Linked DNA regions of Homo sapiens. The protein of the gene in region 3 interacts with the protein of the main gene of each other region in a pairwise test. Each region holds a gene or a part of one and is shown on either strand. Other genes may lie near its edges.

What was found.
Region 1: the proteins of RHBDD2 (region 3) and SCGB3A1 interact in binary tests that used the Homo sapiens proteins (3 or more experiments, as listed by UniProt).
Region 2: the proteins of RHBDD2 (region 3) and ABHD16A interact in binary tests that used the Homo sapiens proteins (3 or more experiments, as listed by UniProt).
Region 4: the proteins of RHBDD2 (region 3) and SLC25A2 interact in binary tests that used the Homo sapiens proteins (3 or more experiments, as listed by UniProt).

What each region holds. Positions count from the first base shown.
Region 1 is NC_000005.10:180,589,439-180,595,981, reverse strand, and holds SCGB3A1 (secretoglobin family 3A member 1 precursor), read left to right. Parts: upstream 1-4,482; 5' UTR 4,483-4,519; coding exon 4,520-4,571; intron 4,572-5,143; coding exon 5,144-5,382; intron 5,383-5,727; coding exon 5,728-5,751; 3' UTR 5,752-5,877; downstream 5,878-6,543. UniProt on the Homo sapiens protein: Secreted cytokine-like protein. Inhibits cell growth in vitro.
Region 2 is NC_000006.12:31,693,010-31,700,801, reverse strand, and holds part of ABHD16A (phosphatidylserine lipase ABHD16A), read left to right. Parts: intron 1-3,768; coding exon 3,769-3,854; intron 3,855-7,369; coding exon 7,370-7,443; intron 7,444-7,652; coding exon 7,653-7,775; intron 7,776-7,792. UniProt on the Homo sapiens protein: Phosphatidylserine (PS) lipase that mediates the hydrolysis of phosphatidylserine to generate lysophosphatidylserine (LPS). LPS constitutes a class of signaling lipids that regulates immunological and neurological processes.
Region 3 is NC_000007.14:75,874,093-75,882,169, forward strand, and holds the start of RHBDD2 (rhomboid domain-containing protein 2), read left to right. Parts: upstream 1-4,941; 5' UTR 4,942-4,990; coding exon 4,991-5,168; intron 5,169-6,153; exon of another isoform or gene 6,154-6,223; intron 6,224-7,272; exon of another isoform or gene 7,273-7,398; intron 7,399-7,736; coding exon 7,737-8,077.
Region 4 is NC_000005.10:141,301,641-141,308,660, forward strand, and holds SLC25A2 (mitochondrial ornithine transporter 2), read right to left. Parts: upstream 2,410-7,020; 5' UTR 2,226-2,409; coding exon 1,320-2,225; 3' UTR 995-1,319; downstream 1-994.

The DNA.
Region 1 (6,543 bases), on a different chromosome or scaffold from region 3:
TGGGCCGGGCGGAGGCACCGTGAGCCTCTAGGCTCCCCAGCAGGAGCACCCAGGGGCTGAGTACCCTGCTCCGAGGCCCTGAGGTCTTTCAATAGGCCCCAAATTCAATATCTGGCCCCTTCCCCAGAGCCGCAAAGTGCTTGTTTACCTTCCAGCTCTTCCTGCATTCCGTGGGAGTGGGCAAGGTGTGCGTGTTTATTTTGGCCCAAAAGATGCCCTGCAAACACTGCCCAGAACAAGCTGACCGTGTCGTCTGCAGACAGCGCCAAGCACTTTCTCAGTGTCTCGGCAGACCTGAGCCAGCAAGGGCCGCAAGCAGGAGTGGCAGGGAAGGCCCAGGCTGACGAGAGGGCGCTGCCCACCCGCCCCTGTCCCATGCCGGGCGGACTCTGACACCCACCCTGGAAGCCTCACCTGGCCTGGCCTTCAAGGGGCAGGGCAGCACTTGGAGGGCATGGCAGGCCCCAGGTCCGTCCACACCCCAGCTCCTGGAACCTTGGAATGTTAGGCTCAGCAGGCACGGTCTCGGCAGCCCGACTGGGGGCGTCATTGTGAGATGAGGGGACTGTCCTGGGTTATCTAGGTGAGCCCTAAATGCAACAACACACACACTCATAAGATGGCGGCAGAATTTTCACACTCACACACACCCACACTCACACACACATTCACACACACTTGCACACAATTCAAACACATGCATATCCACACACTCCCTCCCACACACTCCCTCCCACACTCTCCCTCCCACACAGACTGACTCACGCTTATCCACACACACACTTGTACACACATTCACACTCAAACACACCCACAAGCTCACACCCACTCACTCTCCTTCACATGCACATTCTCATTCACTGTCCATCTTACACACTTGCATGCATATTCACTCTCACCCCTCCACACACACACCCCCACACATCCCCACACCCACACACACCCACACATGAACCCTCACACACACCCACATACACACCCACACATACACACCCTCACACACACCCCACACACACTCACACACCCACACATACCCTCACACACCCTCACACACACCCATACCCTCTCACTCCCACACACCCACACACGAACCCTCACACACCCACACACACCCCCACACACACCCACACACCCACACACACCCACACACCGACAAACCCTCACACACACACCCCACGCACCCTCACACACACACCCACACACACAGAAGAGGAGGAGGCCATGTGACCAGGAGGCAGAGACTGGAGTGATGCAGTCACCAGCCAAGGGGCCCTGGCAGCCCCCATAAGCAGGGAGAGGCCAGGAGTGGATAAGCTCCTGGGAAGGCCCAGCCTCTGGAGGAGGAGCGGCCCCCGACGCCTCGCCTTCACCCCCGTGACACTGCACTTCTGGGCTCCAGAACTGCGAGCGGAGTAAATGTGTTGTTTTCAGCCACCAGGTATGTGGTGACTTGTCACAGCAGCCTCAGGAAATGAATACAGAGGCAGCCGCTGACCCAGCTGTGCAGGTCTCGGCACAGGCCAGACCCTCGGCCTGCCTGATCCCCAACTACCGCAGAGGCTTCGCCAGCCGTGGCCCCCAGAGCCAGTGTGGGGTGAGGGGCTGGGCCAGCCTGAGGTGAGTCCTGGCTTGCCTTGACCATGGCAGCTCGGGAGAGGAGAGCACATCCTTTGGCCCTGTCAGTGGTGAAACGGAGACACCGTGACACACTTCTCCGGGGAGCCAGGGGATGTATTTTTGGAATCCGAAATCTTGGGGCACATGGGAATGAGGGCCTGTCACCACCCTGCAGGCTTGTGGGAAATGGGAACAGATCCACCCAAGGCACTATGAGCCGGAAGGTGGAGGGAGGTTATTTTGAAGACAAAGGATCCCTGGAGGCAGGTGCAAGGGGCCGCTGGAGTGGCCAGGACCCCAAGCGCTGCTGGGGACCCACAGATGACGGCCTCCCCCTCCTCCTGGCCTCGGCAGCATCGGTCTTTCCCGCGGTCAGTGTTCTCTGGTCCCCAGGCAGCATGGGGAAAGGTGGCCCCAAAGTCAGCTCCCAAGATGCGCCCACTGGGATTGCTTGGGCCAAGGCTGCCAGATCCTGCTCAGGAGAAGAACAAGCATCATGAGGTTGTGGACACACTGGGATCCTTGTGCATTGTTGCTGGGAAGGCAGCGTGGTGCCGCTGCTATGGGAGAGATGGCAGATCCTCACAAATGACACAGGCAAGTTCCACAGGCTCCAGCCATTCTACCTCTGAGCAGCCACCCAAAACAGCCAACAGCAGGGTCCCAAAGAGGCATTTGCACAGCCGTGTTCACGGCCGCATTACTCACAGCAGTGAAAACATGCAAGCGCCCACATGTCCACCCACGGGTGAAGTGAATGGGTGAAGAAAACGTGGCACAGCCATGCAATGGAGCAGTATCCTACCCTAAGAAGGAAGGAAACTCTGAAGGTCATGAATGAACCTGGAGGATATCATGCTAAGTGAAATACGCCAGACACAAAAGACAAACACTGCCCGATTCCACTCATATGAGGTGCCGGGAGTGGCCAGATTCAGAGACAGAAAGTGGAATGGTGGTGCCAAGGGCTTGGGGAGGGGAGTGGGGAGTTGTTTAATAGGCTCAGAGTTTCAGTTTTATAAGAGGAAAAGAGTTCTGGAAATGGATTGTGGTGATGTTTGCACAACATTAGAATATACTTAATGCTAATGGAGTGTGCCCTTAAGATGGTGAAGCTGGGCTGTGCGGGGTGGCTCACACGTGTCATCACAGCACCTTGGGAGTCTGAGGCGGGAGGATTGCTTCAGGCCAGGATTTTGAGACCAGCTTGGTCAATGTAGCGAGACCCCATCTCTAGAAAAAATAAAAATAAATCAAGCCAGGCGTGGTGGCTCACACCTGTAATCCCAGCACTTTGGGAGGCTGAGGCAAGAGTATCACTTGAGGCTAAGAGTTCAAGACCAGTCTGGGCAACACAGTGAGACTTTGTCTCTACAAAAAATAAACAAAATTAGCTGGACATAGTGGTGCACACCTATAGCCCCACCTGCTTGGGAGGCTGAGGTGGGAGAATTGCTTGAGCCTGGGAGGTGGAGGCTGCAGTGAACCAAGATCACCTCACTACACTCCAGCCTGGGCGACAGAGTGAGACTGTCTCAAAAAACAAACAAACAAAAAACAAAATCAAAATCCGCTGAGTGTGGTGGCTCACACCTCTAGTCCCAGCTACTTGGGAGTCTGAGGTGGGAGGATTGCTTGAGCTCAGGAGTTCGAGACCAGCCTGGGCAACACGGCAAGACAGTGTCTTTACCACCACCAAAAAAGTAATTAACTTCAAACTGTTTTTAAAAAAGAAAACGTATTTCCCATTAAAATTACTTCCATGATGACCAACAAAACACAACCAAACTCCAGATTTATAATGCAAAAATCCCCCAAACAAAATAGTCAAGGAAAAGTGTAAGTGAACAGAAACAGTGTGAATGCGTGTGCCTGGCCACAACAGTTGGCAAAGGCACAAGTGTCTGCAGGTGCGGAGGAGGCCGCAGTAGCTCGGGGTGGCTGAGGGCTAAGACGTGCTGTCAGCCATAGGGAAGGAATTCCAGGACACTGCCTGAAGAGTCAGGTCCTCCCACCCGGGAGCCTGTTTCCCACGCGTGCCAGCTACACTTTACAAAAGAAAAGAGAGACTTTGCACCAACCTAGCTGAGAGCAGCCACGCAGCAAAACGTGAGTCACTCAGTGCTCAATGCCTGGGGTCAAAAAATAGAGGAAAGAAGAAGGACTAAAAGCAAATTAGTTTATGTATCATTTGCAAAAGTTTTCAAAATGTGCTTTGCTCTCCATCTGTCATACTTCTGCAGGTGACAGACGAGTGAGGACATTTAGAGAAACTCAGGAACAAACCAGGCCCATCCACTGGCGTCGAGGCTAGTTTCGAAGACAGAAAAACGCCCCACTTCTGTTTGCACTGTGGCTGCCTGTGGCCCGGCCGGGGAGGCGGCCGGGAGTGAGGCCTGATCGTCCCTGGCGCCTCCACCTCCCCAGGCGCAGAAGGCGCCCACGAGGACCCCCAGTGCCCGACGTTGCCACGGTCTGGGATCAGAGGCAGGGACCAGGGAGCCAGGAACTGCGCCGCCCCCGCCCCTGCCCTGGCGCGAGGGAAGCTCCCCTCACCCGGGCCCAGCCCTGCAGGGGGGCGCGTGGGGTCAGACCGCAAAGCGAAGGTGCGGGCCGGGGTGGGCCTCGCGGAGACAAAGGCCGGGCCTGCCTGCTCTCAGAGGGCCCCAGCGCCTGCCAAGAGGAAGTCCTCGAGGCCCGGGCAGGGAAGGGGGCACGGGCTTCCCAGGGCCCGCCGGCCGCAGCAGGAAGTTGGCCAGGGCACGGCCGTGAGCGGAGCGGGCAGGGCTTTCTCAGGAGCGCGGGCGAGGCCGGCGCTGGAGGGGCGAGGACCGGGTATAAGAAGCCTCGTGGCCTTGCCCGGGCAGCCGCAGGTTCCCCGCGCGCCCCGAGCCCCCGCGCCATGAAGCTCGCCGCCCTCCTGGGGCTCTGCGTGGCCCTGTCCTGCAGCTCCGGTGAGCGCCCCGGGCTCCTGGCGCGCACGGTGGGGCCTGAGGCCTCGGCGCCCGCTGCGCCCCCGCCGCTGCCTGCGCCGATCGTGGATCCCAGGTCCTTCCAGCCTCGCCCGGCGCCCAGAGGGCTCCGCCACCCCGGGGCCCCGCGCCTGCAGCCCGCGGCCTCCCCCTCTCAGGGCTGTCTCCAGCCTCGTGCCGGGATGGAGGCCGCCCCTGGCCTGGGGACACCCGTCTGCCCCCCGTCTGGAGACCGGCTCCTCATCCTGCAAGGCGCAGCGCGAGTGTCCCCTCCCTTGGGGGCCTGTCCCGGACCCTGCACAGAGTTCACCGGTCCTTCCGCCACCCTCAGGCCACTCCGGTGACCCTGCAGCGTCTCCTGGCGGGGCCGCCTCCCCAGACCCGCCTGTGTCCCGGGGGCTCGCACCTGGCAGGCCTCGGCGCAGGAGGGAGGGGCGGTCGGGGAGCCGGGCAGGGCGCGACGGTTCCTGGGCGCCTCCCGCGGGGGCGCGTCCTGGACCTGCCTTCTGGGGACCCCGGCGCGCAGGCGGTGACCCCTCCCTGTTCGCTTGCAGCTGCTGCTTTCTTAGTGGGCTCGGCCAAGCCTGTGGCCCAGCCTGTCGCTGCGCTGGAGTCGGCGGCGGAGGCCGGGGCCGGGACCCTGGCCAACCCCCTCGGCACCCTCAACCCGCTGAAGCTCCTGCTGAGCAGCCTGGGCATCCCCGTGAACCACCTCATAGAGGGCTCCCAGAAGTGTGTGGCTGAGCTGGGTCCCCAGGCCGTGGGGGCCGTGAAGGCCCTGAAGGCCCTGCTGGTAAAGTGGGCACCCCGGGTGCCCTTCCTGCGCGGGCATCCCTTCCCGGCCAGCCTCAAAACTGCACCAGAGGTGTCCCGGCCCTACGTCAGGGCTGTTTCCCGTCCTGCCCCTCCAAGCCCTGTCCCTGGGAGAAGCCCGGGTCTCCGGGTGGGAACTGGGTGGGGCGCATCCGAGCTGCAGGGGCGGGGAAGGCGGAGATGGCCCCGCGCGGGTGCGCGTCCCCCGGAGACGCCAGCGGAACCGCCCCGCTCCCGCTCCCCACAGAGCCGGCCGCTGCCGCGCCCCCGCCTGAGTTCTTGGTGGCAGGGCTGGGGGCACTCAAGCTCGGCTTCTGCTTTCCAGGGGGCCCTGACAGTGTTTGGCTGAGCCGAGACTGGAGCATCTACACCTGAGGACAAGACGCTGCCCACCCGCGAGGGCTGAAAACCCCGCCGCGGGGAGGACCGTCCATCCCCTTCCCCCGGCCCCTCTCAATAAACGTGGTTAAGAGCAGCTCGAGCCTGGTATTTTCTCATCCAAATGCTGATCCCTGTGGGGGACCGAGAGTGCCAAGTCCCAGATTTTGTGAGGGGTGCTGCGTGAGAGAGGGAGAGAGAGGCCGCGAGAGTCTGCAGGTGGCATAGAGCCAGCAGTGCAAGGTGACAGAGATGGGGCCAGTATCAGAGGTAAACCGGATTTGGAAACAAAACTGGCAGGTCTTTCTTCCTGTTGTGCTCTGTAACTGTTTATGAAGCATAAAAATTATCTACTCCTTGAAGACTGGCGAGAATGCAAACGCACCAAAGCCATTTGTTGCTAAAATTTGAAAGTTTTTATTTTTTCCCTCTATACTTGTAGATTTCTTCCTCGGAATGGGGGAGGAATGAGGGCTTCAGGAAATCCGCTGTTGGGCTTGTTTTCCCTGCAGTTTCTGCTGGTTTTGTCCAAATAACCTAGTGACTTTGATTCCTTCTACTCTAGCGGAGAGACCACCTTTTGTCAACTGATCTAGTGTTGGTGGGAAGGTGCCCAGGGAACCCAGACATCGGTGTCCCTTTCAGGGGAAGCCTCCCAGTTGACTTCCTTGCTGGGATGAATAACTCTGCCTCAGGTGGCTTGAGCAGGTCTTCCCCCCATCATGAATATCCACACGAGATTTTAAAAATTTTTTGATTGGGC
Region 2 (7,792 bases), on a different chromosome or scaffold from region 3:
AAAAGACTTGGGTTATAAATATGAAAAAATAACTGAAAAGTAACAAAAAGGTTTGCTTTTTTTTTTTTAAGAGATAGGGTCTCACCATGTTGTCCAGGCTGGTCTCAAACTCCTGAACTCAAAGTGATCCTCCCACCTCAGCCTCCCGAAGTACTGGGATTATAGATGTGAGCCACTATGCCTGGCTGCTTTTATCTAGAAAAGATGCATATACCCTACAACAATTCTATATATGTATACATACTAGGAAAACTCCTGCACATGTATAAACAATATAGATGTACAAGAATACAGCATACAACATTGTTTGTAATAATCCTAAGCTGGAAACAACTCCAGTGGCTACAAATAGTAGGATGGATAAAATATGTTCTGTGTGGCCGGGTGTGGTGGCTCATGCCTGTAATCCCAGCACTTTGGGAGGCAGAGGCCAGTGGATCACGAGGTCAGGAATTTGAGACCAGCCTGACCAACATGGTAAAACCCCGTCTCTACCAAAAATACAAAAATTAGCTGGGCATGGTGGCACGTGCCTGTAATCCCAGCTACTTAGGAGGCTGAGGCAGGAGAATAGCTTGAACCTGGGAGGCAAAGGTTGCAGTGAGACGAGATTGCGCTACTGCACTCCATCCTGGGCAACAGAGCAAGACTCCGTCTCAAAAAAAAAAAAAAGTTCCATGCAATAGCCATGCAAGAGAACACTATATAGCAATGCAAATGAACAAACTGTAGCTACGCTCAACAACGCAGATGAAGCCAGGTGCAGTGGCTCATGCCTGTAATCCTAGCAGTTTGGTAGGCTGAAGCAGGCAGATCACCAGAGGTCAGGAGTTCAAGACCAGTCTGTCCAACATGGTGAAACCCCGTCTCTACTAAACATACAAAAAAAAATTAGCCAGGTATGGTGGTGAGCACCTGTAATCCCAGCTATTCGGGAGGCTGAGGCAGTAGAATTGCTTGAATCCAAGAGGCAGAGGTTGCAGTGAGCCAAGATTGCGCTACTGTACTGCATCCTGGGCAACAGAGCAAGGCTCCATCTCAGAAAAAATAAAATACAAAAAATTAACTGGGCATGGTGGCACATGCCTATAGTCTTAACTGCTTGGGAGGCTAAGGCATGAGAACTGCTTGAACCTGGGAGGCAGAGGTTGCAGTGAGCCAAGATAGCACCACTGCACTCCAGTCTGGGTGACAGAGCGAGACTCTGTCTCCAGATAAACAAAAGCAATGCAGATGAATTTCTCAAATGTTGTGTTAAATAGAAGAAGCTAACCACAAAATAATGTATGCAGTATGTTTTCATTTATATAAAATTCAAAAGGGATGTGCATGTTTGAGGTAGAACACCGAAGACAACAAGGGCATGGTTTTCTTTTTTTTTTTTTTTTTTTTTGAGACGGAGTCTCGCTCTGTCCCCCAGGCTGGAGTGCAGTGGCGCGATCTCGGCTCACTGCAAGCTCCGCCTCCCGGGTTCACGCCATTCTCCTGCTTCAGCCTCCCGAGTAGCTGGGACTACAGGCGCCCACCACCACACCCGGCTAGGTTTTTTTGTATTTTTTAGTAGAGATGGGGTTTCACCGTGTTAGCCAGGATGGTCTCAATCTCCTGACCTCGTGATCCACCCGCCTCGGCCTCCCAAAGTGCTGAGATTACAGGCTTGAGCCACCGCGCCCAGCAAGGGCATGGTTTTCTCAAAAGTTAGGAGAGTGATTACCTGGGGTGGGGGAGAACAGAGTGGGGGAGAGCCCTGCTGAGAGGTGGCTGTGTTCTCTTTGTTGACCTAGGTGATAGTCACATGAATGTTTGCTTTGTATTTTTTAAACTGAATATATGTTTTATGTACATATGTTGTATCTCGCAATTTAAAAAAATAAAGAGGACAGATCACCTACCCCTAGTGGGTACATAAGATGACAACCAGGTGATGGGCGATGCTTCAACATGGGGGTGGTGGGGTCAGGGCTGGATGGTCGCAGTTGGGTCCAGGACCTTCTGCCTGAGGTGTTCTGCCCCCTGATCTCTGCAGGGCTGGGCTCTCTCCTCAGAGAGGCCTTCCCTGACCACCCTGTCTAAAAGTAGCTCCCACTGCTCAGTTTTGTCTTAGTTTTTTATTTTATTTATTTTTAATTTAGAAAAAATACAGAAAAAATTAGCTGTGCATGGTGGCGGGCGCTTGTAATCCCAGCTATTTGGGAGGCTGTGGCAGGAGAATCACTTGAACCCGGGAGGCGGAGGTTGCAGTGAGCCGAGAGCACATCATTGCACTCCCGCCTGGGCAACAAGAGCAAAACTGTCTCAAAAAAAAGAAAAAAGAAAAAATACAGAAAAGTCCAGAGAACAAAATATAAAAGCCTTTTTAAATTTTTTGATGTATAGTTTTGTGATTTTTTTTTTATATATAGTTTTGTGATATTTGCTTTAAATGCTTTCTGTCAACAAAATACTAAAGCACCACAGTTAGGGTTGGAGTTCCCATTGGAATCCTTTCAGTCCCATCTTCCTCTTTCCTCAGAAGTAATAATTGTCATTTGGTGTGGGTTTTTTTTTTTTCTGGCACATACTTTTATGAAACATATACCTCAGTTCCTCAAGTCTAAGCTGCCATCAATTGTAAAATGAATTCTAATTTCAGAGTTTTCAAGGGTTAAAAAATATACATTTTAGAATCTATGAAATATGGTATCTATAAGCAGTATGTATTATTTTGCACATTTTACATTTTTGGCATAAATGTTGTACAAATCATTCTGCAGCACACATCATTCTCTCATCATATCGTTTTGGGGGAATACCATTGATGACACATAAAGTTCTGGTTCATTCTTGTTGTATTTTCTCTGTAGCACTTATCCCTCTCTGAAATGTTGTTTATTGTCTTCTCCTGGCTGTACCTAACCCCAACCAGAATGCCAGCTCTCTGAGAGCCAGGAGCTGTGTATCTCATTTCCTGCTGAGTCTCCCGTGTGTAGTACGGTGCCTGTCTGACACACGACACCTGCCAAGTCAGTGAGGAGAGAAGTTAGGGTTTGAGGTGGCTCAGCAGTGAAAGGAGAGTGGATGCAATCACTGACTGTGTAAGTGAAAAGAGAGAGGAGAGAGAGTCAGCACTGAGAGTTGCTTCTGCTTCAGAAAGGAAAGCAGAAAGGAGGCAGGAGAGGAACTGTTCAGGAACTGGAAGGAGTCAAGGATGGGCCCAGGAAGCAGAGGCAGGAAGAATCTTGAGGGACAGGGAGAATGCTGAGTAGTACAGTTGAAGAGAATGAGGATAGAAGAGTCAGGAATTCAGTGAGGAAGTAATTATGGGCAGGAGTCGGAGACTCTGAAGCCAGATGGCAAGGGGCTAGAATATACAGAAAAGAGGCAGAAAGCAAACATTGGAGAAGAATGGCAGTGAAAAATAGAGAAATTTGATATTCGCAAGGGAGAATAGTATTATATGATAGTGTTTAATAGTGTCATTTAATAGGTTATATGACAGTGTTTAAAGACTGAGGAAGAGGAACATTCTGGAAGATGGTAGGTTAAGGATTGTCTATAAAGACACAAACTGCAGAAGCTAGGGAGAAGAAGCGTCCTGTAGCCAGTTGCTGGATTTGGAGGAAGGGGGTTGGCTCACATCTATTTCTCCGCATCCTATGCCCTCAGTTCCTTTTTCTTTCACTTTTTCTTACAGGGCCTTCTTCTAGCCCATCTCCAATTCTTTTCCTAAAACCTAGGCTTTCTGCTTCCCAGTTTTCCTAGCACTGTTTCCTGTCCTTTTTCTACCAGGCATTGGCCGCTGGACCAACCCCCAGTACCGGCAGTTCATCACCATCTTGGAAGCAACACATCGGAACCAGTCTTCAGAAAACAAGGTGAGAGGCCCTAGGAAAAGTGCCACACAGGCACCCAATAGCAGCTTTCTCAGTTGTCCCTCAGAGCACCAGACACTGGCTTCTGCAGGAAGAGGAGGTGTGTTTTACCACCCACCACACTGGGTGTTTGCTTGCACATTGCTGTATCCCTTCTCACCTCCATTAGTGAACTGTCCACCTGAGGAATTTTTCCTCCCTACCACTTCTAATGGAATATTCTGCTAGAACAATCTTCCCCCTCCCTCACCTGTAAGAACTGGCTAAACTAGAAACATTCCACAATGTTTCTTTTTTCTTTTTCTTTTTTTTTTTTTGAGATGGAGTTTCGCTCTTGTTGCCCAGGCTGGAGTGCAATGGCACGATCTCGGCTCACTGCACTCTCCACCTCCCAGGTTCAAGTGATTCTCCTGTCTCAGCTTCCTGAGTAGCTAGGATTACAGGCACGCACCACCCACACCCTCTAATTTTTGTATTTTTTGTAGAGACGGGGTTTCACCATGTTGGCTAGGCTGGTCTCCAACTCATGACCTCAGGCGATCTGCCTGCCCCAGCCTCCCAAAGTGCTGGGATTACAGGCGTGAGCCACCACTCCTGGCCTCTTTTTTTTTTTTTCTTCTTTGAGACAGAGTCTCACTCTTACTCAGGCTGGAGTATAGTGGTACAATCTCAGTTTACTACAACCTCCAACTCCCGGGTTCAAACAATGCTCATGCCTCAGCCTCCTGAGTAGCTGGAATTACAGGTGCACACCACCACGCCCAGTTAATTTTTTTTTTTTTTTTTTGAGACGGAGTCTCACTCTGTCGCCCAGGCTGGAGTGCAGTGGCGCCATCTCAGCTTACTGCAAGCTCGGCCTCCCGGGTTCATGCCATTGTCCTGCCTCAGCCCCCTGAGTAGCTGGGACTACAGGCGCCTGCCACCACGCCCGGCTAATTTTTTTATTTTTAGTAGAGACGGGGTTTCACCATGTTAGCCAGGATGGTCTTGATCTCCTGACCTTGTGATCCGCCTGCCTCGGCCTCCCAAAGTGCTGGGATTACAGGCGTGAGCCACCGTGCCTGGCCAATTTTTGTATTTTTAGCAGAGACAGGGTTTCATCATGTTGGCCAGGCTAGTCTTGAACTCCTGACTGCAGACGATCTGCCTGCCTTGGCCTTCCAAAGTGCTGGGATTATAGGTGTGAGCCACTGTGCCTGGCCCACAGTGTTTCTTTTTTTTTCTTTTGAGATGGAGTTTCGCTCTTGTTGCCCAGGCTGGCGTGCAATGGCATGATTCCAGCTCACTGCAACCTCCGCCTCCTGGGTTCAAGCGATTCTCCTGCCTCAGCCTCCCAAGTAGCTGGGATTACAGGCATGCGCCACCACGCCCAGCTAATATTGTATTTTTAGTAGAGATGGGGTTTAGCTGTGTTGGTCAGGCTGGTCTCAAACTCCTGACCTCAGGTGATCCACCTGCCTTGGCCTCCCAAAGTGCTGGGATTACAGGTGTGAGCCACTGCACCCAGCCCACAATGTTTCTTAGAAGGTAGTTTTCTCTGTATCACAGCAGCTCAGTTCTATAAATGTTTAATTTTGTTGTATGCATTGAATACCATGCTATCCTTGTTTGTGGATGGGACAAGGTGGACAGGTGTGTCCACTCCTATGCCTGGGAGTACAGCATGGTGCCAGGAGGGAGAAAAGCTAGGGCTCAGTGTCTTGGGAATTATGCCAAGCCGGCTGGTGCTGGACTGTGATTATCTTTGAGGATGGGCTTTGGGGCCCCATAGAGCTCTTTTCTGTTATGGGAGGTTTCTAGGATCAAACAGCTATGACCACCATCATCACATTCCTGGCTACTCCACACTATGGAGCTGCGTAATGATGCCCTGTACTATGCTACTGGCTGAAGCATTTGGCACACACCCTTTCTGATCCTCACAACAGCTGAGTGAGGTGGCATTATTACCTTTATTTGTAAATGTGAGAAAACAGAGGCAAAAAGAGGTTAAGTGACCCATTCGGAGTCATAGAGCAAGAAAGTGGCTAAGTCCAGATTTGAGAGCAGGTCTGAGCAAAGCCTGCCTGAAATTTGCTTTTAGTCATCTTGTTTTGTTTTGCCATTTACCTTTTTGTATAATTTTTCTATTGCTCTCTGTTAGTCAAATTATTTTTGAAATGTCAAAAAATTTCTGTGCAGAAAATAAAAACCCTCAAAATAGAGTGCTAGGAGCTCAGGGGGTGGGGGACGAATATAGTCAAGTATTAAGACACAGCTAGGCCGGGCGCGGTGGCTCACACCTGTAATCCCAGCACTTTGGAAGGCCGAGGCGGGTGGATCACGAGGTCAGGAGATCAAGACCATCCTGGCTAACATGGTGAAACCCCATCTCTGCTAAAGGTACAAAAATTAGCCGGGCATGGTGGTGGCAGGCACCTGTAGTCCCAGCTACTTGGAGGCTGAGGCGGGAGAATGGCGTGAAGCCGGGAGGCAGAGCTTGCAGTGATCCGAGATCGTGCCACTGCACTCCAGCCTGGGCGACAGAGTGAGACTCCATCTCAAAAAAAAAAAAAAAAAAAAAGACACAGCTCCCACTGCCGTCAAAAAACGTGGAGCTGGTGAGGTGGTTCATGCCTATAATCCCAGCACTTTCGGAAGCCAAGGCAGGAGGATCGCTTCAGCCCAGGAGTTGGAGACCAGCCTGGGCAACATAGTAAGACCTTGTCTCTAAAGAAAATTTTAAAAATTAGCTGGGCATGGTAGCACATGTCTGTAGTCCCAGCTACTCCAGAGGCTAAGGTAGGAGGATCACTTGGGCCTGGGAGTTTGAGGCTGCAGTGAGCTATGATTGCACCAACTGCATTCCAGCCTGGGCAACAGCACGAGACCCTGCCTCAAAAAAAAAAAAAAAGGCATGTGGACTGGCTCAGTGGGGTGGCCCGAGGTTCGGATGGGCTGTAGGGCAACACTGATCCATGGCTGCAGGAGTTGAGGAAGGGATGTAGTTGTGAGGATGGAAGTCAGAGCTTCCTTCAACGGGTGGCCCCACATGGCAGAGGAGCCCACTGTGGGCGTGACTTCCCTCCTCTCTGTCTCACTCAACCTTGGGTCTGTCAGTGTGATCTGCTGGGAGATTTCTAAGCTTCTAAGACAGCACCCTATAAGGGACCCAGGTGGGGAATAGACCGTGACCAGCCAGCGACCCCTACTACCCGTCACTCAAAAGCACTAGCACCTTCAGCCACTCCTCCTGGGGATGGGTCAGACTTAGTTTTTTAGAAAAGCAGAGTGTTAGGTTCTTAGCTTGGAAGAGGGCAGACAGGCCAGTCCTGATACCTGATGGGGCATACCATCTCCCCTGATTTTCTGGTCCTGTTAGAATTTTCCATCTGAGAATTGGGAGGGTATTGACCTCCGCTTGGTTTCCCCATGATGTGTGGGGATCAGACCCCTGGATAACGAAGGTGTTGTTGAGGGTGGGTAGGAGAGCCTCCCCTGAGTTCTCAGTACCCCTTTGCCTCTCGTGCCCACTGCAGAGGCAGCTTGCCAACTACAACTTTGACTTCCGGAGCTGGCCAGTCGACTTCCACTGGGAAGAACCCAGCAGCCGGTGAGGCCCCAGTTCTTTTGCTGTATCTCTCCCCTTAGAACCATTCCAGAAAATCTCTGCTCTGCCCTCCCACCTCCATGCCCTCTCAGGTCACAGTGCCTGCCTTCCAATGCCATTATGTCGTTCCTAGACCCCACTGTTCTCCAGACCTCAGACATCCAGCTTGCTGCTCCTGACCCTATCCTTCCCTGCATCTTTCCCTTCCTCAGGAAGGAGTCTCGAGGGGGCCCTTCCCGCCGGGGTGTGGCCCTGCTTCGCCCAGAGCCCCTGCACCGGGGGACAGCAGACACCCTCCTCAACCGGGTTAAGAAGCTGCCTTGTCAGATCACCAGGTGGGAAACAGCAGCGA
Region 3 (8,077 bases):
GGACTCTACATGGTGCTGTCCCTCAAGAAGCTCACAGTCTGGGAAGAGAGACAGACACAACAAACAGGATTTTTTTAAAAATATTTTTTTAAATATAATAGAAATGGGGGTCTCACTATGTTGTCCAAAGGCTAGTCTCTAACTTGTGGGCTCAAGCAATCCTCCTGCTTTGGCCTCCCAAAGTGCTGGGATGACAGGTGTGAGCCACTGCACCCAGCCTTTCTTTTTTGTTTGTTTGTTTGTTTGTTTGTTTGTTTGTACAGACAGGGGTCTCACTATGTTGCCCAGGCTGGTCTCAAACTCTTGGGCTCAAGTGATCCTCCTGCCTGGGCCTCCCAAAGTGCTGGGATGACAGGCGTGAGCTGCTGTGACTGGCCAAAAACCAGGAAGTAAATACCGTGTTATACTTGCCATGGTAGAGATGTGTGTAGTGGTAGAAATAGAACAACCTGGCTGGGCACAGGGGCTCACGCCTGTAATCCCAGCACTTTGGAAGGCCAAGGCAGGTGGATCATGAGGTCAGGAGATCGAGACCATCCTGGCTAACATGGTGAAACCCCGTCTTTACTGAAAATACAAAAAAATTAGCCAGACGTGGTGGCGGGCGCCTGTAGTCCCAGCTACTCGGGAGGCTGAGGCAGGAGAATGGCGTGAACTCGGAAGGTAGAGTTTGTAGTGAGCCAAGGTCGCACCACTGCACTCCAGCCTGGGCGACAGAGCGAGACTCCGTCTCAAAAAAAAAAAAGAAATAGAACAACTTGGCCAGGTGCAGTGGCGCACGCCTATAATCCCAGCACTTTGGGAGGCCAAGGCAGATGGATCACTTGAGGCCAGGAGTTTGAGAGCAGCCTGGCCAACATGGCGAAACCCTGTCTCTACTAAAAATACAAAAATTAGCAGGGCGTGGTGGCATGTGCCTGTAATCCCAGCTACTGGGGAGGCTAAGGCAGGAGAATCACTTGAACCTGGGAGGTGGAGGTTGCAGTGAGCCAAGATCACGCCACTGCACTCCAGCCTGGGCGACAGAGTAAGACTCTGTCTCAAAAAAATAAAAAGAAATAGAACAACTTTAGAGATCTAATGACCCAAGTTCAAATCCTAGCTCTTCCACTAACTCACAGTGTGACCTCCTCACATCCTATTCGTCCCTCGGTCAATCTTATCTGTTTTCTTCATCAAAACCCTGCAAGATAAGACTTAGTTCCCATTTTATAGATGAGGAAACTGAGGCTCCCTTACCCAAGATCACTCAGGCAGCGAGTGAAAGAGCCAGGGTGAGGTCCTGCTTCCTCCTGACTTCCAGCCTGAGCTCCACCAGCTCCACACTGGCTGCTTCTCAAATGCTAATGTAGGAGCCATTAATGTCTCCTTTAAGGGAACATTAAAGGAAATGGCCAGTATAACATGGTATTTATCTCCTGGTTTTTGGCTTGGCTCATGCCTGGAATCCCAACACTTTGGGAGGCCCAGGCACGAGGATCACTTGAGCCCAAGAGTTTGAGACCAGCCTGGGCAACATAGTGAGACCTCTGTCTGTACAAACAACAACAACAAAAAGGCCCAGTGGGCTGGGCGTGGTGGCTCAAGCCTGTAATCCCAGCATTTTGGGAGGCTGAGATCTCAGGCGGATCACCTGAGATCGGGAGTTCGAGACCAGCCTGACCATCATGGTGAAACCCCGTTTCTGCTAAAAATGCAAAATTAACCGGGCATGCTAGCGCATGCCTGTAATCCTAGCTACTCGGGACGCTGAGTCAGGAGAATCGCTTGAACCGGGGAGGCGGAGGTTGCGGTGAGCCAAGATCACACCATTGCACTCCAACCTGGGGAACAAAAGCGAAACTCAGTCTCAAAAAAAAAAAAAAAAAGTGCAGTGTCTCACACCTGCAATCCTAGGTTTCCCTTAAGGGAAACGTGAATATCTCCTGCAACTGCCCTCTCCGAGCCTAAACCCTCTGCACAGCAAATGCAGAAAACTCTTTCTACAGAGAGCTAGGTGGGCTGACTGGCCATGCCATCCTAGACTGGTGTACCTCAGGTCTCCTCTTCAAAAAATATCTTGAAATTCTTGCCAGAAATTCAGTGTGAAATGCATTCGGGATGGTGGCTGTTGTTATAACAGTCCCCAGGGGTCTCAATTACGTGAGAACCCTCGGCTTCTGGACAAGAGACAAGGAAGGGAAGTAGGTCACATCCCAAAGGCATCAGGGCTAATAACTTTGCATTGAACATTTTCTGTGGCCCCACTGTGTGCTAGGTGCCAGGGCTGTGGATACAGACACAGGTATAAATCAGACATGGCTTCTGCCCTTGGTAAGCTCACAATTACGGGCACAAATATGCAATGATAGTATAATATGGGAAGTGCCTCAGGAGGCTGAGGCAGCGAACTGCTTGAACCAGGGAGGAGGAGGTTACAGTGAACAGACATTACAGCACTGCACTCCAGCCTGGGTGACAGAGCAAGACTTCGTCTCAAAAAAAAAAAAAAAAAATTCCTGGAAGACTTGTTGCCTAATTTTAAGTTACTTAACTTCTCTGTATCTCCATTGCTTCATCTGTAAAACGGGCGTAATTACAGAACCAGCCTCACAAGGGTTGTGAAAATGTAATGAGTAACTACATAAAAAGCACACAACAGGCTAGGCATGGTGGCTCACACCTGTCATCCCAGCACTTTGGGAGGCCAAGGCGGGACGATTGCCTAAGCCCAGGAGTTCAAGACCAGCCTGGGCAACAGAGCAAGATCCCATCTCTACAAAAAAGAAGCAGCTAGCTAGGTGCGGTAGCACGCACCTGTGGTTCCAGCTACTTGGGAGGCTGAGGCAGGAGGATACCATGAGCCCGGGAGGTCAAGGCTGCAGTGAGCTATGATTGTGCTACTGAAGCAGGACACACAAGCCCCAAAATTTAGCCTCCTTCCTTCAGAGCCAGCAGGAGCTTCTAAGCTATGGGGGGCAGCAGTTACAGCTGAGTCAAACCAAAGCCTGCAGCCAAGGGCAAGGAGCTGATAACACTAGGGTGGGTGTGTGGGGAAGGAGCCAAATACTTCTACCATGTGAGGGGAGGGAGTACTGGGCAGGGTCACTGGAGAAAGCGAAAAAGGTAGTACCCTTGAAGGTACTGCTGGGCACAGTGGCTCATGTCTGTAATTCCAGGACTTTGAGAGGTCAAGGCAGGCTTATCACCTGAGGTCAGGAGTTCGAGACCAGCCTGGCCAATGTGGTGAAATCCCATATCTACTAAAAATGCAAAAATTAGCTGGGCGTGGTGATGCACACCTGTAGTCCCAGCTACTTGGGACTCGGGAGGCTGAGGCACAAGAATCACTTGCATCTGGGTGGCAGAGGTGGCAGTGAGCAGAGATCACGCCACTGCACTCCAGCCTGGGTGACAGAGTGAGACTCTTGTCAAAAAAAAAGGAAGGTCTACCTTAAACAGCTGTTCTCCAGCAAAAGCACTTTTCAAACTGTAAAGTGCTGAAATAGATCTCGGTTATGAGTGTTCTATTACATCCCTAACTTTTGAGTCCCTTCCATTGAATCCCTCTCCCGTTTCCTGTCCCTTTTCCTTTTTTTTTTTTCCGAGATACAGTCTTGCTCTGTCACCCAGGCTGGAGCGCAGTGGTGCGATCTCGGCTTGCTGCAACCTCCGCCTCCTGGGTTCAAGCGATTCTCCTGCCTCAGCCTCCGGAGTAGCTGGGATTACAGGCACGCGCCACCATGCCGGGTTAATTTTTGTAGTTTTATTAGAGACGGGGTTTCACCATGTTGGCCAGGCTGGTCTCTAATTCTTGACCTCGTGATCCGCCCGCCTCGGCCTCCCAAAGTGCTGGGATTGCAGGCGTGAGCCACCGTGCCCAGCCTCCTGCCCCTTTTCTTCAATATGAAGATAAAGCTGCCCCTGGCTGTACTGGAGGCCAATTCCGGGCCATAGCAGGAGGAACTGAGTTCTAATTCTGTCTTTGCCATGTAACTGAATTACCCAGGGCCCTCCCTAGTCCTGTTTCCTCTTTGGTGTAATAGGGATGAATACAGATGGGAAGATCGTGATATGAAAGAGTTCTGTGAGCTGTAAGGCATAATAATCATGAGGTATTATTACAGGACCAACAGGTGCCTAGGCCCGCTGTGCAATAACAGACCAGTTACACTGAGGAAGCAGGGTTATCAGCAGAAAAAGGGTTTAAAGATGGCAGGGTGCCTAGGAGGAGACGCAGGGAGACCAACAAATCCATCTTCCCCAAGGAGTTCCGGGCTGGGATTTTAAAGGGCATTGTGAAGGGTGAGGGGCTGGAAAATTGGGGTCATCGACTGGTCAGGGTAAGGGGGTTGAAATCCTCAGGATATGGAAACTGCAGTCCCCATTGAGTCTTGCTTCTGTGGGCTCCTTCAGAACAACTGGTGTCAGTAATTATGCTGGTATGCGGGACCTGAAAGAATATCTCCAAGGGAAAACGTTTCATAATGTTCAAGTTGTTATCTATGGAGTTAAGGGGAATTGTAATCTTGTGACAGGGTCTACGTGATTCTAGGACAGACGATGGGCACCTATCATAGCTGATACACAGAGCTATGAGCAAGCAGGTCGGAGAGCAAGGTGACCTAGTGATGAACGCAGAGTGTGCTGCAAGCTTCGTTTATTTTCGTTTTTCCCCCTCCCTTCTTCCCTGATTAATTTCCTAAAGTTTATAGGAGCAGTTTCAGTACCAGCCCGAGTAGGATGGAATCAAACACGGTGCTGGAACATTCCTACCCGGAAGTGGCCCCGACCCCCCTCCCCCCGTCCCGGCCTCCCACGCACGGGGGGGGGGGGGGGGGGGGCTGATCGGCGCTACCGGATTGGACAACTTGGCATGGGGCGGGGCCTCTGGGAGGCGTGGCCTCCGGCCGGCTCCTCTGCTGTTGCCAAGGGAAACTGCCGCGAGGAGGCGGAAGGAGCAGAGGACCGGCAGCCGGCGTCGAGGCGGGGCGCGGGAACGACGGCGGCCATGGCGGCCTCGGGGCCCGGGTGTCGCAGCTGGTGCTTGTGTCCCGAGGTGCCATCCGCCACCTTCTTCACTGCGCTGCTCTCGCTGCTGGTTTCCGGGCCTCGCCTGTTCCTGCTGCAGCAGCCCCTGGCGCCCTCGGGCCTCACGCTGAAGTCCGAGGCCCTTCGCAACTGGCAAGGTGAGCAGGGGCGGGCCGGGATCGCGGGGCGAGTCCTTGTCCTCCGACTTTGCCGGTTCCTGGGCTCTAGCCTCCGGGACTCGCCCCTTCAGGCCTCACCGCCAGTCTCCCCCTGTCTCGGTCCTCATCACCATGCCCGCCCCCCGGAGGACCGACCTCCAGCACCGTCTCTTGCTCTCCGTGTTCCACACCTTTGTCTGCAGACCCCATCTTCGTCATCACTGTAATCCCTTCCCTACCCGAATTTGTTCCCTTCCCTGTCGCCACCAGACTGGTTAAGGCCCCAAATCCATTCGCTAGCAAATCCATGCTCGCTCTCCAAGGGTAAAGATTTTTCGTCTCCCCCTCCCATTTCACATACACACCTACGTCTGCTTTAGGCCTAAGCCCCACTGAAAAACGTTTTTCTCTCACCTACATCACGACAATTGGACTTTATCCACAAACCCCTATAAGCCCTATAAACGTCCTGCCCTCTTGAGATTTGGAATTTCTTCTGCTTTTTCATCTGTATCTTAATCTTGACTGCCATTCCCAGCTCATGGGGGTACCAGGGTGTCTTCTGCCTTTGGAGAGAAGTGTTTGTTTTTCTCTAGGGGAGAGAAATTTTGCAGACCAATTAAGTATAAACATCCATTCCTGAAAGACATTCCTAGTCTCCGTGTCTTCCTCATTTTCTCGAGAGGAACACAGGAAATTTGCATATCTCCTGCTGTTTTGCAAAGCACACACACTGATATGTATTAATTTCGTTTAACCCTCACAAGGATCCCATGACGTAGGACCTGTTATTGGCCCGTTATCTAGATAAGATTGAGGTTTCATGCAGAGAATCGCAGAGCTGTTGCGTCATGCAATTGAGATAGGAATCTATATTTTTTTTTTTATTCTGTGATGTTTTGGAACTAGAGCCTTCGGGTAGATAATCTCCAAATCATGTACAGTTGCTTCTAGAATCTTTTCATGTTTATACTTGGAATTTCAGTTTTGGAAATACTCAACAAATAATGAAGTACTCTTCAGATAATGAAGCCTCTGGTGATGGCCAGACTGAGGTATATGGTTCCATAGCCTGCTTCCCCACTCCAATCTAAAACTGTTCCCCCCACCCTAGGTATACATAGCACCACCTCACAGACAGAAGCAAAATGCCAACCTAACCTTAACCTCCCACTTTCTGGGGTTCACTGCTTCCCTGGGTGTGGGTTTCGTGGATATGTGAGCGTTAGAGACGTAAGGGACCTTTGAAGTCCTCAATCTAACTCTTGTTACTTTACAGTGAGGAAACTGACGCCTAGAGGACCTGTGACATGATTAAACTCAGCCAGCCTGGATGTAATAGAGCCAAGATTCCACTCCAAGTCTTTAGACTCCCAAGTCCAATATTACCATCAGTTCTTTGGTCTCTCTCCTTGAGTTTAGTCGTATTTGGGCATGCAGGGACATAAAAATACTTAAGAGATAACCACTTCTAAAATTTTTTTAGAGATAGGGTCTTCGTCTTACCCAGGCTGGAGTGCAGAGATGCAATCATAGCTCACTGCAGCGTTCAACTCCTGGAATCAAGCGAGCCTCCTGCCTCAGCCTCCCAAGTAGCTGGGACTACAAGTACACATCATCACACCTGACTAATTTTTAAATTTTTTTTAAAGACGGGGGTCTCACTATGTTACCTAGGCTGGTCTTGAACTCCTGGGCTCAAGTGATCCTTCCACCTAAGCCTCCCAAAATGCTGGGATTACAGGTGTGAGCCACCATGCCTGGCGATAACTGCTTTTAGAAAAATAAAAGGCCAGGAATGATGGTTCGTATGTGTAGTTTCAGCACTTTGGGAATTCAAGGCAGGAGGATCACTGGAGGCCAGGAGTTCAAGGCTAGCCTGGGCAACGTAGCAAGACTTTGTCTCTACAAATAAAAATTTAAAAAAAGGAAAAGGAGGATTCTTTGATGTCTTATTACATATAAAGCATCAGTTTACCTGTGAGATCGGATAAGCACTTTCTGAGGAGACTTATAATTTCTATAATCTTTATTGTTAATGATAGTGTTATAATTCTTACAGCTGCAAAATAATTCATGGTCCCTTTTTTCTTCCTCTGAACAGCCACTATGGAAGGAGGGGTCAGGATTACAGCAGAGGAGACTGGCACACAGAGTGTTAAGTGACACCCACTCAATCCACCCCGAAGCTGTTACACTTAATTAACCCTCAAACTGCCCAGTGAGGTAGGTCAGTATGAAAACCTGAAAAAGGATTATAAAGCACTTTACAAATTCAGAGACTGCCCTCTACCGAAAAGTATTATTTTTTTCCCTCTGGAAGTCAGTTACCGCTAAGAGTTGCACCAGGCCTGGGGAAGTGTAGGGATTAGATATTCATGCCTCTCCTTTGAGGCTCTGGGTCCTTCATTGTTGAACGCACTGCTTGTATTGCCTCCTGCTGCGACTCACTGGCTCTCACTTCTCTGTCACGGAGGGGGGCTCTCTGCCTTTCCTAGGCGGCTTATAACCTGGCTTCCCTCCTGGGAGCAACCCGCCGCCAGGCCTCTAACCCGACTCCCTCTGCAGTTTACAGGCTGGTAACCTACATCTTTGTCTACGAGAATCCCATCTCCCTGCTCTGCGGCGCTATCATCATCTGGCGCTTTGCTGGCAATTTCGAGAGAACCGTGGGCACCGTCCGCCACTGCTTCTTCACCGTGATCTTCGCCATCTTCTCCGCTATCATCTTCCTGTCATTCGAGGCTGTGTCATCACTGTCAAAGCTGGGGGAAGTGGAGGATGCCAGAGGTTTCACCCCAGTGGCCTTTGCCATGCTGGGAGTCACCACCGTCCGTTCTCGGATGAGGCGGGCCCTGGTGTTTGGCATGGTTGTGCCCTCAGTCCTGGTTCCGTGGCTCCTGCTGGGT
Region 4 (7,020 bases), on a different chromosome or scaffold from region 3:
GGTATTGTTTCTTGGGAAAATCCACAATGCTTACTCTGAAACTTTTAACTCAAGAATGTCAAAGCCACACTGGTATGCAGGTACCTTCTCCTCTTAAAAATATAGATGAGGCCAGGCGCAGCGGCTCACACCTGTGATCCCAGAACTTTGGGAGGCCTAGGCGGGTGGATCACCTGAGGTTAGGAGTTCATGACGAGCCTGGCCAACATGGCAAAGCCCCATCTCTACTAAAAACACAAAAGTTAGCCGGGTGTGGTGGCGTGCACCTGTAGTCCCAGCTACTTGGGAGGCTGAGGTAGAAGAATCACTTGAACCCAGGAGGCGGAGGTTGCAGTGAGCCAAGATCGTGCCACTGCACTCCAGCCTGGGCAACAAGAGTGAGACTGCATCTCAAAAAAAAAAAGTATATATATATATATACTTTTTCTCATATATATATATATATGAGAGAGAGAGAGAGAGAGGAGTATTTTGGTATCAAGCACCACATGAAGATGTTTCAAAACTTGAACCGCCTAATGTAGTGCGCATGTTAAGCAGACTTTAAAAGAGATCCTGGCCGGGTGCGGTGTCTCATGCCTATAATCCCATCACTTTGGGAGGCTGAGCTGGGTGGATCACCTGAGGTCAGGAGTTCGAGACCAGCCTGGCTAACATGGTGAAACCCCATCCCTACTAAAAATACAAAAATTAGCTGGGCATGGTGGCGGGCACCTGTAATCCCAGCAACTCGGGAGGCTGAGGCAGGAGAATCGCTTGAACCAGGCAGGCAGAGGTTGCAGTGAGCCAAGATCATGCCACAGCACTCCAGCCTGGGCGACAGAGTGAGACTCTGTCTCCAAAAAAAAAGAAAAAAAGAGAGAGTGATCCTAAGTAATCATTCATACCTATCTTCACAAAATATGGTCAATTCTGGGTTTGGGGGGCTGATATTTGAGATTATATATAGAACTAAATTGTTTCACTCACGACATAGAATCATCCAAACTGCATGTACACACAAATGGCTTTATGCAAAGGCCCTGACAGAACGATATTTAGTTTTTCAGATTAGGTACATAGGGCCAACCAGCCCACCCTGTACATTCCAGCAAGTGCAAGAGCAGCAACTTTCCTATTTCAATACAATTATGGGCAGAAATTATATGATGTAAAATAGAGGCCCTTCCATAAAGTTAAGATTTAGGGTAGAAGAAGGGAAGATAAAACCAAAATTCCCATGAAGTCAAAATTAGACAGTGGTCTTGTACTCTGCTGAACCCTGTGATGAACTGTAGTCCTCAAACTCATGGACTCGGATCCAGGTTCACCAAGACACTTCAGTATGCTTCCAACTGTTTCATCATCATCTTCCTGCTGTATTCGTAGGCCACAAACAGTGCCCCATTGGCAGGGATTGCTCGAATCATAGTAGCTTTCAGTCCAGAATATAAGGCTACTATTCCTTCATTTCTCACAACACTTAAGAGGGTACCAATAAATCCTGCCTGTTTCCCATACATGGAAAGAACTTGAATTCTGGATTTAATACAATCCACTGGGAACACGACAAGCCACAGGCAAATTCCAGCAACTCCACCACTTAACATCAAATGGACAGGGCCTAGTTCATCTTTTGATCTCCCTGACGCAAAAAACGATCGGCTCAGTTCATAGCCACCAAAGAAAAAGAAATAACCCGGTACTTCTTGAAGTAGAGTACTCGAGAGTCCATGGTAGAAGCCCAAGGGGCCATCCTTTTTAAGGATACCCTTCACGACAGACCAAATTGTATTATGGCTTTTTGCTATCTTCCCTGACATCTCCATTTCATACATGGTCTGTAGCCGGCACTTCACAAGCTCAGTGGGGCAGAGAGCCAGTGCAGCAAATGCAGAGGCGAAGGACCCCGCGGCTGCAGTCTGGAGATCACTCAGCTTTGCCTGCTTGTCCATTCCAGCCACTTTCCTGACAAACTGCTGGCAGAACCCGTAGCACATGAAGAGGACCGAGTTTTCGGCGACGTAGGCCATAAGTGCCGGGCCGGTGCCCTTGTAGAAGCCCCGGAGACCCACTTGAGCGTATGTCTTCAGGAAGCAGTCGGTGAGGCCCTTGTACAGGTCAGGGAACGTCTGCATCTTCACTTTTATTGTGTCGAAGGGCTGCCCAGTCAGTACACACGCTGTCCCCCCTGCGGCCCCCGCTGTGAGGTCGATGGCGGCTTGGATGCCAGGACCGGACTTCATGTTCGCTCACTCGTCTGAGGGTCCCAGTGGAAGGCGACTAACTCCCCAGAGCGTGAGACCGGCTTTTCACGTCCAGCCGCAGCGAGCGCGGGGAATGGAGTTGGGGGTGGTGGGGTGGCTCTACCGCCTGTTCTGGGCTCTCACCCCAGTGCGGGGGAAGCCGCTCAACCCTACGCTCCGCCGCGGGCCGCCCCCTCCCCGCGCACTAAAATAACCCCCAGCTGCCGGCCCAGCGCGCGGCTCACTAGCGTTCCTGCGGCTCCTGGCGCACTGGCCGGGCCCCCAGCCGCCTCCAGCCTGGAGCCGCCATCCCTGCACCCGCAGGCGGGGGACGCGGACCGAATAAATACTTTTAGTGTACTGCGACTGGGCGCGGTGGCTCACTCCTGTATCCCAGCACTTTGGGAGGCCGAGGCGGGAGGATCGCTTGAGCCCAGGAGATCGAGACCAGCCTGGGCAATATGGCAAGACTCCATTTCTACAAAAACGAAAAAATACCCGGGCGCGATGGCGCGCGCCTGTGGTCCCAGCAATTCAGGAGAATGAAGCGAGGATCGCTTGAACCCGGGAGGTCGATGCTGCAGTGAGCTATGATCGCACACTGCACTCCAGGGTGGGCGAAAGGGTGAGGCTCTGTCTCAAAACAAAACCAAAACCAAGAAAACATGTAAAGCTTTTCGATAAATTCTTGCAATTATGGCCGGGAACTCTAGACGCCGCAGTTCAGCTGGCGGCAAAAGAAATGCTGTCCTAATCAGTCAGCCCTGCTTCTTTTCTTTTCTCTCTTTTTTTTTTTTTTGACTTAGGGTCTCACTCGGCCGCCTAAGCTGGAGTTCAGTGGCGCGATCCTGGCTCACTGCAGCCCCAATCTCCTGGCCTCAGGCGATCCTCTCACCTCAGCCTCCTGAGTAGCTGAGACTAGAGGGACTACAGGCGCAAGCCACCACATCTGGCTAAATTTTGTATTGTACAGACGGGGTTTCGCCATGTTGCCCAGGCTAGTCTCGAACTCCTGAACTCAAGCAATCCACCCACTGGCCTCCCAAAGTGTTGGGGCTTACAAGCATGAACCACCACACCCGGCCTATCCCACGCTTCTTACCATGCAAAAAACAAAAACAAACAACCCGAAAAGAAGATGCCCTCACTTGAATAGACCCTGAATTCAGAGGGTCAATCTACAAGAAAACTGCTTTAAAGTAGATAAGACAGGCCAGGTGTGGTGGCTCATGCCTGTAATCCCAACACTTGGAGAGGCTGCGGAGGGAGGCTCATTTGAGCCTAGGAGTTCAAGGCTAGCTTGGGCAGCAAAATGAGACACCCCTTACCCCCTACAAAAAATAAAGTAGAGAAGACAAACTGTCAGAGGCGCTGGAACCACAGCAACTCCATCTTGACTAGGGACTGAGTAAAATAAGGCCGAGACCTACTGGACTGCATTCCCAGGAAGACAGGCATTCTAAGTCACAGGATGAGATAGGAGGCCGGCACAAGATACGGGTCACAAAGACCTTGCTGATAAAACAGGTTTCAGTAAAGAAGCCAGCCAAATCCCACCAGAATCAAGATGGCATAATAAGTGACCTCTGGTCGTCCTTACTGCTCATTATACGCCAATTATAATGCATTAGCATGCTAAAAGACACGCCCACCAGCGCCGTGTCCACTTACAGATGCCATGGCAACAATAAGAAGTGACCCTATGTGGTCTAAAAAGGGGGAGGAATCCTCAGTTCCGGTAACTTTGGACCCCTTTCCCAGAAACCTCATGAATAATCCACCCCTTGTTTAGCTTACATTCAATAAAAAACTGTAAGTATCCTTAGTCAAGCCGCCCAGGCCACTGCTGTGCCTATGGAGTAGCCATTCTTTTGCTTCTTTACTTCTCTAATAAACTTGCTTTCACTTGACTCTATGAACTTGCCCCAAATTATTTCTTGCATGAGATCCAAGAACAATCTCTTGGGTCTGGATCGGGACCCCTGTCCGGTAACGAAACGATCTGAGGGTTGCTACATGAGAGACAGTGACTGCTTTTGATCAGAAAACCCTCAGCGATCTGCCCACGCTCCTCACTTTCCTGGGGGGCAAGGAGGGGAGTAGGGCACTGTGGGAATCCTTAGCCCTGGAGATGTGCTACTGCTTTCCTGCAGAGCTGGAGAAATGCTATCACATGGCAACATCCCCAAGGATCTGGGGTTGCAGCCCTGGGAACTGGTGGAACGTGGAGTCCTTATCATTTCTGAAGATAGAACACGGCACTATAAAATCAACTTGGAAAATGGATAGTATTTATATACTGCATTGCTAAGAAACTTGATAGAAAAGAGCTGGGTGGCTCAGCACTATGCTTTCTAAGTTTTGAGATTCTCTTTGAGGACCCACACAGCCTCATGCAGAAGTAGAAATTTGTCGTTTGTACACTGTTGGTGGGAATGTAAAATAGTTCAACCCCTATGGAAAGCAGTATGGAGATTTCTCAAAGAACTAAAAATAGAACACCCATTCAACCCAGCAATCCCACTATTAGGTATCTACCCAAAGGAAAAGAAATCATTTTATCAAAAAGACACCTGTGCTGGGGACAGTGACTTACACCTGTAATCCCAGAATTTTGGGAGCCCAAGCCAGGTAGATCGCTTGAGCCCAGGAGCTCCAGACCAGCCTGGACAACATGGCAAAATGCCATCTCTACAAAAAAATACAAAAAGTAGCCATGCATGATGGCATGCCCCTGTAGTGGCAGCTACACAGGAGGCGGAGATGGGAGGATTGACTGAGCTGAGTTGGAGGCTGCAGTGAGTTATGATCCAGCCTGGGTGGCAAAACAAGACCCTGTCTCCAAAAAAAAAACCAGAAAACATCTACACTCATATGTTTATGGAAGCACTATTCACAACAGGAAAGTCACAGAATCAATGTAAGTGTTCATCAATAGTTGATTGGATAAAGAAAATGTGGTATATGTATACCACGGAATACTATGCAGCCATAAAAAAGAATGAAATTATGTCCCTCACAACATGGATGGAGCTGGGGGCTGTTATTCTAGGTGAAATATCTTAGAACCAGAAAATCAAATACTGCATGTTCTCACTTATATAAGTGGGAGCTAAACAATGGGTACACAAAGACATAAAGATGGGAATAACAGACACTGGGGAATCCAAAAGTGGGGAGGGTGGGAGGGATTGAGGGTTGAAAACCTACCTGTTGGGTACTACATTCACTATGTGGGTGACGGGTTCACTAGAAGCCCAAACCTCAGCGTTACACAACATACCCATGTAACACACCTGCACATGTACTCCTTGAATCTAAAATGAAATTCAATTTAAAAAGAAGTAGAAGTTCGGGATACAAATGACATGTCTAGCTTTCAAAGCAAGATGTTTTTTGGACATTAGTGAGGATACCACTGTCAGGACACACTTCTTCCTCCCAGATATTTATAATCCCAGCATTGGAATGAATTCTCTCCAGGCTTACATTCCAAGCCGTCGTCGGCCATGGGTAGTAAAAACAAAATCTGGGGGGAAGAAAGTATGCTGAAAGCATTCTCTTTCATTTAGAAAACTTTCCTTGTCTAATTATCCTTGGCTGTCAATTAAAAGTGAGGTACTTCAGAACAAAGGTCTCTGAGAAAATTTAAAAAAAAATTTTTTAATGAGGTACTAAAAAGCAAATTGTGCATGGATAATTTGTCACCAGGTAGTCTTCACTGTAGTAAATAGTAATCTGGGCTTTTCTTTGGGAAATGCCCAAATGTCAGCAGTTGCAGTTCTTTTCTCTGGTACCACATAGTTTCCTCAGAGAATGCTCTATGAGCTTTGACTGTGTGTGTGCAGGGTGTGGTGGGGGAGAGGTAGGTTATAAACCTAGATACTGATTTAAAGAGAACAAGAGAGGGGAAGAGGGATGACACACCTGGAGTAAATATACAGACTTTCACATAATTTTTTCCTTATTTGACACTGTGCCTACTTTCTCTGAGTTTGGGCCTTCTTTGGTTCAATTTATCCAGAAAATAAAATTTCCATCTTCTGTGGGATGGAAAGAGTTATCTGGCTTCATAGAGTGGGATAGAGATCCTGGACACCCAACAACTCTGAACACAGACTTTAATGAATCTCACATCTCTAACCCTACACCTTCCCACCTTCCCTGGAATCTTCTGCTTGCAAAAATTTTGCATCTTACAAGGCTCTGTCAAGTGGGTTTGTCTCTCTTTGGTATAACTACTTGCAGACATTTAGCATGTAACTTTTTCTGATCTATGAATTCATTTATCATTTCTCTGTTTTGGCCTTCAGATAATGGGTTGACATCTCTCATCCACTGTTGTCTCATTTCCTATTCTCTTTGTCCTTAGAAGTTAACATCTTTTAAAAATCCTTTCTGTTGTTTTATTTAGCAGCCTCTTAGGTAAAGCAGAAAGGATGAGAACAATCTGCAATTTGAAAATAGAAAACTTCATTAGGATTTTTAAATCCTTCATGTCATATTTGAGGAATTTTTTTCTATGTTTTGATTTCACTTTCAGGAAAGGGAACGGGGGAAAAGGGTTTTGTTTTGGTTTGTCTTGCTCTGCTGCCCAGGCCAGAATGCAGTGGCACAATCATGGCTCACTGTAACCTCAACCTCTCAGGCTGAAGCAATCCTTCCACTTTAGCCTCCCATGTAGCTGGGCCAGAGGTGTGCACCATCACACCCAGCTAATTTTTAAATTTTTTGTAGAGACAGAATCTCACTATGTTGCCCAGGCTGGTCTCAAATTCCTGGGCTTAAGTGATCC